Linked DNA regions of Homo sapiens. The protein of the gene in region 2 interacts with the protein of the main gene of each other region in a pairwise test. Each region holds a gene or a part of one and is shown on either strand. Other genes may lie near its edges.

The links.
Region 1: the proteins of PCYT1B (region 2) and TMEM43 interact in binary tests that used the Homo sapiens proteins (3 or more experiments, as listed by UniProt).
Region 3: the proteins of PCYT1B (region 2) and ECPAS interact in a two-hybrid assay, tested with the Homo sapiens proteins (one large-scale study listed by BioGRID).

The regions. Positions count from the first base shown.
Region 1 is NC_000003.12:14,138,543-14,142,194, reverse strand, and holds part of TMEM43 (transmembrane protein 43), read right to left. Parts: intron 3,016-3,652; coding exon 2,898-3,015; intron 603-2,897; coding exon 400-602; 3' UTR 1-399. UniProt on the Homo sapiens protein: May have an important role in maintaining nuclear envelope structure by organizing protein complexes at the inner nuclear membrane. Required for retaining emerin at the inner nuclear membrane.
Region 2 is NC_000023.11:24,640,731-24,644,382, forward strand, and holds part of PCYT1B (choline-phosphate cytidylyltransferase B), read right to left. Parts: intron 1-3,652.
Region 3 is NC_000009.12:111,369,320-111,372,971, reverse strand, and holds part of ECPAS (proteasome adapter and scaffold protein ECM29), read left to right. Parts: intron 1-351; coding exon 352-543; intron 544-1,142; coding exon 1,143-1,351; intron 1,352-2,206; coding exon 2,207-2,250; intron 2,251-2,344; coding exon 2,345-2,537; intron 2,538-3,652. UniProt on the Homo sapiens protein: Adapter/scaffolding protein that binds to the 26S proteasome, motor proteins and other compartment specific proteins. May couple the proteasome to different compartments including endosome, endoplasmic reticulum and centrosome.

The DNA.
Region 1 (3,652 bases), on a different chromosome or scaffold from region 2:
TGTGCAGTGATGAGAAGCAGCACACGGCAAGGCTGAGCCCTTTATCAGCAGGCCTCCGTAGAGCGTGTCTGCGTTGTCAGCTGCCAATGGGCTGAGTGGCTGGCCGTACCCACTCAGTCCAAGAGAGGAAGGAAACAGCAGGAGAAGCTGTCAGCTTGCCATTCATGAGCTGCTGCTGCCCACCAAAGCTGCTTACTGGCAAGAAGAGATGTGGGGAAGACATGAGCTGGTGAACACCAACCTGGTGCACATGCTGCCAAGTCTGGCCCCTGAAGAGGAGAGGGAGTGCAGAGTCCAAAATTGACCGGGGCTCCTGCTCTGGCATGGAGCTGGGTCAGAGGTGAGAGAGGACCTGGATCCTAGGGCTCACGCAGGTGTCGGGCGGGTGCCAGGGTCTTTTCACTCCAACTTTTTGGCTGGCACCCGTGTCCGAGCAACAAGGATGGGCACAAGGGCCAGGCCGGCAATGAGGAGGGCCCACAGGGGTCGGTAGAAGAGCCAGCCAGCCGCCACGGTCAGCAGGGTCAGCGAGGTGGCCACACAGAAGGCAAAGGCTTTCAGGCCAATGTTGACCAGGTCTCGGAAAACAGGAAACCAGTCCACTGTGGAAAGGAGAAAGGTGATGAGGTGCCACCTGCTCTACACCTCACCAGCTCAGCAGATCTCTCCTGTCCCTAGATGAGGATGGGCCCATGTTGCTACATGCATGAGGAGGGGAGAGGATCAGTGGGTGGAAGGCAAGGAGCTTCGTTCTGAAAGCTAAGGGAGCACAGGAGCCTCTGCTATGAGCTGCGTGGTTGGGCACATTGCCTAAGCCACCCACTCTACCCTGATCCAGGGGAGAGGATGTAGCAGTGCTTTGTAAACTTTAATACTTTATGTGGAGAGTAGTCTGAGGCCAGTATAAAGACATTTGCCTGTAATGCTAGAAATAACCTGGGTCCTGCACACTCATACAAGAGGCTGTGGGTGGAGCCTCCTGAAGGTGCCTATTTGGGCCTCTCAGCCATTCCTAGAGGTGTTGGTTCATTCATGCAGCAGGCTGTTACTAATGATTTATGTGCCCAGCACTGAACCAGCAGGTGCTAGAGGAAATAAATTAGCCTAAGCATTGGCCTCTCCTCAAGAATCTCACAGACTATTGGTCCAATAGGATAAAGCCCAGAATCCAGCTAAATTCATGAGGAATTACCCTATTCTTGCCTTGTGTGACCTCTCCAGGTTGGCATTCCATAGCTGATGTCCACTCAGGGAATCTTCGCTCAGTTCCCAGGAGGCCACCAATGGTCTGGAATCACTGGGTTTGCAGAGCAAGCCCTGGTGCCCCACCATGCCTGCAGCACACCCTGCAAGCCACTACCTGGCCTCATCCTGATCTGTTCCCATACAGCACTGCTACTCAGCCCTTATAATAAGCAAAGTTCATGTTTCTGAACGTTGCCTGTGTTAGGCACCATGTGCACCATCTCATGAAGCACTCATGCCCACCCTGTAAGGTAGGTACTCTTCTTAACTCCATTTTACCCACAGGGTCACTGAGACTCAGGGAATTAAGAAACTCACCACCAGTCCTCCTGTTAGAAAGTGCCAGAACCAGGATTTGAACTCAAGACCGTATGGGCCCAGAGCCTGGGCTCTGAGCTGTTGCTCTAAGTCTTGTCTGTCTCTAGCTGTGGAGTCTTACACACGTTGGTATTTATCAAACGCATGGGGAACTGTGTGCTTCCCTGCTGCGCTCCCAACTCTCCCCACCCACCCTGGGGGTCCCTCCACACTCTAAGTCTGTCCTGAGTCTGGCGCATTCCAGACGTAGAGTGAATTGGGATCACAGACATCAGAGATCCAAAGAAGGGCCCACTGAGACAGACACGAGGAAACCAAGGCTCCAGAAGGGAACTGGTCTCCCCAGGGTCACACAGGCAAGAAAGAGGATTCCGTTTAAATGCTCATCTCTCGCTAATGTGCCCACCACGTCACTGGTCTTTCTGAGCACAATTCAGCTGTCCAAAGAAAGGCTCAGGGAGAGTCCTTCCCTTCCCGGGCCTGTTTTCCCAACTGTAAACAAAGGAGGTGGTCCCCCCAGCTCAGACAGCCCAAGATGTGCAGCCAGACCTCTTCTGACTTGTGCATGCTGAGTGGGGAAGAGGTTTCTGTTGGCACCCAGAGAAGACTGATGCAATCATGTGACTGGAAGGGACACACACCAGGGAAAGGCTTGGATGGAGAGTCCTCCGAGGAACCCCATCCTCCTGGGCCCAGAACGCACTTAGTCACCCTGGGCACTCAGATCCCGAACCACGCTGGGCCACAGGTCTCCTACTGGGCTCACTGGTGCCAACCTCAGGTCAAGGAGTGGCCCAGAACTCTCCTTCATGCTCCAGACTTGCTGGCTGCCCAAATCTAGCCCAGGTTTTGGAGTGAGGAAGGAAGCATGAGAGTTTTGGGTGTTTCCTATTTGCCACATTTCATAAAACTCTGCATGTAAGGGGTGAGGTGACTGAAGCTGAGATGGGAAGGGAACGGCCAAGCATCCAGAGCTTGGACGTGACAGATTTCAAATGCAGGTCTGGCAGGCTCCCATGTGGTATTCAATTGTGGATCAAAGGAATGAGCAAATGATCGAGCCAGCAGATGGACGAACCTTCAGGCTGTGGAGTGAGACCAGTGCCCCAGAGTTGGCCCCACCCAGCCTGGCCCCTGGCAGCTCCTGCCCTCAAGCCTGCCTTCCTCTGCTCCCTCATCCCAAGGCTATGGAGCGGGGACACAGAGATGAGCCAAATGCCTGGTATCTGCACAAGGGCCATCCCATCAGGCTGGAAGGGCTGAGATGATGCGACAGGCAGAGGAGGCCCTTTCAGGGTGCAGGAGGGAGGGCAGTGACCCACCCCAACACCTACCCAAGGTGTAGAGGATCCGTGTCATAAGGTTGAGGCCCATGAACATGGCCATCCAGCCAGCTGCCCGCAGGCCCCAGGTCTTCATGGAGTTGCTCCTTAGTTCTCTATGAAACACCTCCTGCAGGACAAGGTGGGGGCAGGTCAGGATGCTGAGGGCCAGTGGCGTACCCAGTCGGCAGGGCAGGTCCTGAGGGGGCTGTACCAACTCGGGAGCTGTTGGCCATTTCTGAACAGGCCAGACGGAGTGGGGGCAAGCCTCCTATAGGGCTAAGTCCTTCTGCCCATCTGGCAGAGCACAGGGCAAGGCATGAGATCTCTGTGGAACGTACGGGCCTTCCTCAGCTCAGAGCCTGCCAGCACCTGGAGCCCTCAGCCCACGGTCTCACCTGGAATGAGCAGGACCCTGCCCACCACCCCTGAGCAGGTTGGAGGATGTCTGCTGGGCAGCATGCTCTGCGCTATGTGTGTGATCTGTTTAATCTCAGAACCTCTCCACATGGCTTGGGGACACTGCACCCTCCTTCTCAGGCTCCATCGCTGTCGCTGCCCCTCTTCCTGTCCATTAGATGCTGCAATTCTTTAGCTGCTTCAGTCCATACTCTCTCCCCGGACATCCCATCTGCTTCCTTGGCCTCCACATGCCGTGACCCTCCAATTTAAAGCTGCAGCTCTGGCCCTCTCCCGGGCCTCACAGCCCTGCAGCTCCCACCACCTCCACCACCTCCTTGACATTTCCACTTGACATCTCAGCCTGT
Region 2 (3,652 bases):
ATCTCCTCCATGCTATCTCCCAGATCTATATCTCCAGCTCAGAACTCTCTCCTGAGTTCCCCAACCAAACATGAACTAGACACCTCCAAGTGGAAGTCCCCATGGCACCTCAGACATAACTCTCACAAACTCTACTTCCCTGGCACACCCATCTCAGTGATGGCACTCACTAGTTGGAGCCAGAAAACAAACTGTGCCTTCCTTGATCTTTTTGTTTTTTTGAGATGGAGTCTCGCTCTGTCACTCAGGCTGGAGTGCAGAGGGATGATCTCGGCTCACTGCAACCTCCGTCTCCCGGGTTCAAGCGATTCTCCTGCCTCAGCCTCCCAAGTAGCTGGGATTACAGGAGCACACTACCATACCCGGCTAATTTTTGTATTTTTAGTAGAGATGGGTTTTCACCAGGTTGGCCAGGCTGGTCTTGAACTCCTGACCTCAAGTGGTCCACCTGCCTCACCTCCCAAAGTGCTGGGATCACAGGCATAAGCCACTGCGCCTGGCCCCTTGATCTTTCACTGAACCTGCCCCATGCTCAGACTTAGTTATCAAATCTTGGGGCATTTATCTCTTTAGTGTTTCCCATATCCATCTAGTTCTCTCCTTTCCCACTGTCCTTCTATAATTTCAAACTTATTAACTCTCATCTAGATTACTGCAACAGTCTCTTAACTGAAATAGAATAAGATAGGATAGCATAGAAAGTATAAGAGTGCAAAACATGAAGTAAGGAAAAGTGATGTTTGGTTTTAGTTATGACTACATATATGTATACGTGAACTGTGCAACATGAAAAGTATTTATCATTGTAGGTCCTCAGAACTGATCCTAACAGGGCTGGACAAGTGTCTAAGCTCCCTGTAAAGCCACATGTAGTCACTGAGCACTTGAAATTAGCTAGTCCGAATTGAGATGTATTGCAAGCACAATATACACATTGGATTTCAGACTTAGTATGAAGAAAATAATATAAGATCTCATTAATAATTTTTATATTGCATGCTGACATAATATTTTGGATACAAAATTAATTTCACCTTTTTTAACCTTTAAAACTGTGGCCACTTGAAAATTTTCAATTACACATGTGGCTCATGCTGTATTTCTACTGGGCAGAGCTGTTCTAGAGTTCTAGGCCAGTATGTGACCCACAATGGGGGCTTAAGATCCACTCAAAAATGGATTGATCCTTTCCATGTCCCAAAATATGTATTGGGGTGAGCAAGTAAAACCTTTTCTTCAAATGCAGGGACTTTTCTTAACTTGGGGATTGGGTTAACAGAGTCCTCCCTGCTGGGAAGTACTTCCCCTCAATGGATAAAAAATAGCTTTTAAGAAAGTCTAATATGTTAAAGTCAAACTTACAAAAAAGCTCTCTTAAGGGATTTCAGCATCCTGGCATGCTTCCACAAACCAAACTACTACCTTCTATTAAACGGAAATGCCCCTTTAGGGGCAAGGGGTTTGGATTCACTTCTTTTATTTCTCTCCACAGCACCTGGTGCATTGCTGTGTCTGGAAGTTGTTAACCACCTGGCTGACTGTGGATCCCATGGGTAAGGGGATGGTAGGGGTTGGTAAGGATTGGTAAGAGACTCAGTTTTCTCTCAGTTATCTTCCAAAACTCTGCATTGCTAAATACTTTAAATCTTCCTCACTGCCTGATTGAGGACATATACATGCACTCTTTTGATTTCTATATGCTAAATCATCAAAATAAAACACAGAAGCTACCTATTATATTTGATTTAGGTTTATTTCTTCCATAAGGGTTTAGCATTAGGCAAATTGGGTTGGAGGGGTAGTGAGAGAACAAACCTAAAAGAATGGAAGAAACTAATTGATTGATTCCATGCTAAATACACCTGACTAGTATCAATTTGCAAGACATGGATGTTGCATTTGGATAGAGACCAGCAGGAAGATACCTAATAATAACCTTAGGCAGAATTCCAGTTGACCACAGTAAATACCCAAGGAAGCTCACGTTTGTTTATTTTCGCCAATATTGCGCATTAAGAGTGTTTCACTTTTAAAATGTATGCTGTTCTGGGTGGCTAAGTAGATGGCAATATTAGCAAAGGAAGCCATTGATGTCTCTGGAAATCTGGTCATCTTTTTGAATACTAGCAGATGAGCATGCTACCTCCAAACTGACATAATGCACCTTCTGCAAGACAGCAGTCTCTTGGCACTGCTCCACTTTGAAGTAAAACCCGAAATGAACTCCTCCTGCTAATGTGGCATGTTGAACCAACCCTTTTTTATTTCCAAGGCCTTCTCAGTTGATCCATAGTATATCCATCTTCATGGAAGTGACTATTGCAGTCTAGAATTACAATTCCTTCTGACAACAGAATGCACCCCTAGAAGAACTTGTCCAAGGTCATTAACCAAATTCTCAAGCAGACAACTTTCAGGGTGGCTGGGCCTTGTTAGAAAGGGCTTCTGGGACACCTGCTGAGCCCAGAGGATCTTTCTAGGCATAATCTGAGGGCTGGGAAGATATGAGGACACAGTCCTTGCTCAGAGGAGTCCTTGTATCTCAGGAGTTAGATTTCCAAGAAGGGCTATTACATCATATCACCCAAGGCCACTCAGTTTCTCATCTTGACAGTCAAGCTGATGAGTCACCTTGCATCATGTTTAATCAGGAAAATAGTAAAGAACTGAAAACAAGTCAAGAATCAAGAGTAAACATTGTAACAATGTAAAGAGTTCTCAGAAGCATCTCAAATCAGAGCACCATGGTAAAATGGTAAGAGTAGTAAGATTATATTCCTAAAATATAGGCTCTATCATAAAACCTAGGTAATGCTTTTGTTATTTCTTTTCTAATTTCTTTATCAGAGTTACTGCATTCTATTTAATCGTCTCCTTTCTTATATTTTCCTCTAATGAAGAATAAGGCAGGTAGAGAAACTACAAGTTTTCCTGGCAGAAGAACTTCCCCTTGAAATATAATTCAATCATATCTGCAATATTATTATCAATTTGTTACTTACAGGGATCTAAAATATAGACTGCTTTAAAGTCTATTTATTCACTCACGTATGCCAGCTCCCCACTTCATTTCAGCAACTAGGAGAAGGAGCCTGCCCTCTGAAGGAGAATCCAAGTGTGGAGCTTCAATCCTAAACAGGCCCCCTGCAAATATTTCATACACTTTCCATAGTTAGTTAAGCAACTCAGTAGCCACACTCTGTTGATGGCTGTGGTGTCAGTGACCCACATACAATTTGGAGCTATATGCCTGGGTGCTGGGAGAAATGCAGAATTTATACAATTTGAAATATGAAGACACTAGCAAAGCTACAAGATCAACAGAAACTACTAAAAACCAGAGAAAGAAATGCTAATTTCATGTTTTCACTTGCTGCTCACTCTCTTCATCAACAAACTTTTTTATTAAGTAGTTAGCATGTGCCTTAGTTATTAAAGTAAGATCATTAGCAAAGGAAAGTTAGGCTATAAAGTATAAATCTAAATTTAGAATATAACCCTACAGTGATCAAAGTTAGCTAATAAGAGAGAAGGCAATTTGAAAATTTTAGTAGTGTTTTATAAATTGGTTGCAAGCCCCTGTTTAAACAGAGTCAAATTTCAGTAGCCCATGACAATGATGAACAACGTGGAAAATTTTGTATCATAAGTA
Region 3 (3,652 bases), on a different chromosome or scaffold from region 2:
CAACCTCAGCCTCCTGGGCTCAAGCGATTCTTGTGTCTCAGCCTCCTGAGTAGCTGGAACTACAGGCACGTGCCACCACGCCTGGTTAATTTTTGTATTTTTTGTATAGGTGGGGTTTCGCCATGTTGCCCAGGCTGGTCTTAAACTCCCGAGCTCAAGCTATCTGCTCACCTTGGCCTCTCAAAGTGCTGGGATTACAGGTGTAAGCCACCACAACCCAGCCTGCTAGAAACATTTCTAATTGATTTTACCTGTTTGTTTTGCTATTATATGAGTTGAACAATAGCCTGTTTAGATCAGTTACCCTTAAAAACAATAAATATCGTAAAGATTTTGGTTTCTCCTTTTCAGAACCTATCTACAAGACCTCTTGTGCTTTGACTATTCATGCTATTGGACGATACAGCCCTGATGTATTAAAGAATCATGCAAAAGAAGTCCTGCCTCTGGCATTTTTAGGCATGCATGAAATTGCTGATGAGGAGAAATCCGAAAAAGAAGAATGTAATTTATGGACCGAAGTGTGGCAGGAAAACGTACCTGGTTAGTAGTGTGGCCTGAGTTAAACCTGCTTCTTAGGAATCACAGCTAGAATTTTTTACTTGCATTCGTTATTCATAAACTCCTCTGAAGTTACTTTCCCAGGACCTTAATATGCATCCCATTTAGTTTTAAACCCATCCAAATTGCTCATCCCATTTAGTTTTGAACCCATCCAAATTGCTGAGTTCTCAAGGTTGGCACTCAGGATTTTTGTCTTTACTCATTCATCACTGCCCACATGAGAGAATATAAACCCTGTGAGCAAGGAGAGCTTTACATTTTTAATTAAGAGTGTGATTTTATGTGGCCTTAGAGTATTTTAGAGTAGTTTTCTAAATGTGTTTTTCACCTTGTCGCATATTAATTGATGATGCCCATTTGTGTGATACGTTCCTGTGGGCACCCAAGTTCGTAAAGTTCTACTATTGTGAGAATAAGTCACAACACCAACACACTTTCTCTCCCTTTGAGAGAGTGGTGTGTTTTAACAGTTGAGAGTCACTGCTTTTAGACTGTTGGTCACTGACTTTTTTTCAGGTTTAGAAAAATCAGTTAATTTTTCTTGTCACTTAAAAGTTGTTTTAATTTTGCTTTCCTAGGATCCTTTGGTGGCATTCGATTATACCTGCAGGAGTTAATTACTATTACCCAGAAGGCTTTGCAGTCTCAGTCCTGGAAAATGAAAGCCCAGGGTGCAATTGCCATGGCATCAATTGCAAAACAGACTAGCTCTCTAGTACCTCCATATCTCGGAATGATACTGACCGCATTGCTGCAAGGCCTGGCTGGAAGAACGTGGGCAGGAAAGGTAAAGGAACCATTCATACCCAGTTAAAGGGATTCTGACTTCATCTTTCATTTTGCATAATAGTAACGATCTGGTTTTGTGTAACTTTTCCAATGGATTATTTTTGTGAACTAGATTTCCTAGACAGTGGAAGCTTTGGGTAAACCTTGCCTGATTAACTGTGGTATTTCCTCTCAAACTGCAACCCGTGTGGCCTTGCATAATGGACAGTAATGCTGGAGATAGATACATTTTCCATATTCAGCCTTCCAAGTTACGTCTTAAACCAACTTGTCAGCATTTTGTACCTGTTGACCTCATGAACAGATCAGGATTGGGCATAGAAAGATCAGGATTGGGCATATGTGAAATAGAGTAGCAAGGTAGCCTGCCTCTAAACCTGGGGCTGAAGATGCCCATCTCTGGGACCTATGAATTAGTAACAGTTATTTTTTTACACAAGAGCTTTAGTAGGATTCTTAACAGTGAACACTCAGTGGGGAACATGAGATTGTGGTAACCTAATGATCTTTATGTTGTAAAGGTCAATAGTGGCCCATGCAGGAATGAAGTAGTACCGGACTGGGAGTCAGACATCATTCCAATTCTGTGGTTGACACTGTTTTCTGTGAGACCTGGGTCGAATCAGTTCTTTAGGCTTCTATGAAATGGAGGTGAAGATAATTATCCTACATCCATGGTTTGGAGTAAAACTTGGTGGATGTGCTTAAAATTATGCATTAAAGATAAGGTGACTGTTGTTAATTTTTGTTGTCATAGTTATCAAAAATTCCTAAGGTAATTGTAATCATGGTTTAGACAGTGTAAATGACATGTTTGGGCTTAATAGTATTTCCTCATCTTTCAACCCCTTAGGAGGAGCTATTGAAAGCCATTGCCTGTGTGGTGACAGCTTGCAGGTAAATGTTCTTTCAATGAAGATGCCATTTCTTAAACTGGACCCGAAAACTGCAGCCTTTATTAACTTCTGATGCTTTTGTATGGACCCTGTAGTGCAGAGCTGGAAAAGTCTGTGCCCAATCAACCCAGCACAAATGAAATTCTTCAAGCTGTTCTGAAGGAATGTAGCAAAGAGAATGTCAAATACAAGATTGTAGCAATCAGCTGTGCAGCTGATATCTTGAAGGCCACCAAAGAGGACAGATTCCAGGAGTTCTCTAACATTGTCATACCTCTCATCAAGAAGGTAATACCACCTGTATCCTCAGTTCTGGTTTATACTTTAAAAAGAAAAAGTTAAAAAATTGTTTTCCCCTATGTCCTGATTATTAGGATTAGTTTAGCTGCAAGTAGCAGAGAAATTCCAAAATACGGCCTTAAACAAGATAGTCAATGCTATGTTTCTCACAAAGCGTTGGGAGCATCACAAAGTGTTCAGGTATTCCGTCTCTTTACAGCTCTGAACTCTGCCATTTCTAGGGTGTGGTCATCATCCTCATGGTCCACAGTGTGTTTGTGTTCTAGGCAGGAATGCAGAGGAGATGAAGCAAGGATGAAGGATACAGTGGGCATGCCATGTCTCTCTTGAGGAGAGTTCCTGGGCACCGCTAGATGGCACTTTGACTTATAGCCATCCTGTTGGTCAGTACTTAGCCACACCTGGCAGCAGACTGAGTCTTCATTCTGGGTGTCCATTTGCCCTCCATGGGAGAAGGGGAGAGTGGATTTGGTAGTGAATGAACAGTTTATGTCATAATAAGCTTTGCCTTGGCTAATAAGCTAAGCCACCCCAGCCATCCTAGAGTAAAGGCAAGAAGCTCAGTGTGCCATGTGAATTGCCTCTGCCATATAGTGGAGGATTTGGGTCAAAAAAAGACTCAAGTTTCATGTGGAAAATGGAATACTCATTTTTAAAAGTTGGGCACTGGTCCCCCCCCCAAAAAAAAGGGTGTGGTTTCCCTGTTTATTTGTGAAACATGAAATATTTTAAGTAACATTCTTATTTCTTATTGCTCCTAAATTGCAGTTGTTTTCTTTCAGTAATAAGGCTATTTAAATAATTTCCATTACAAACATAGTGATAGCATATGGATTTGGGAGACTTGTGTTTTAAGTTGATTACATCACTAGCAAGCTGGACCAGTTGCTTCTCTTAGCCTCTGTTTCTCTATCAAGAAAGAGTTTGGATTTAGATCATTACTGAGTTTCTTCCATCTTTAAAATCTGATTCTAATGCAAGTCTTTTCATGTTATGCTCAAAAGACTACATATGCAGTATTTTTTAGCTTTTGTTTACAGATGCCTGTAAAGTATTGCCTAAATTTATTAGAGATACAGTATTCTGGTTATAAATTCTTGTTG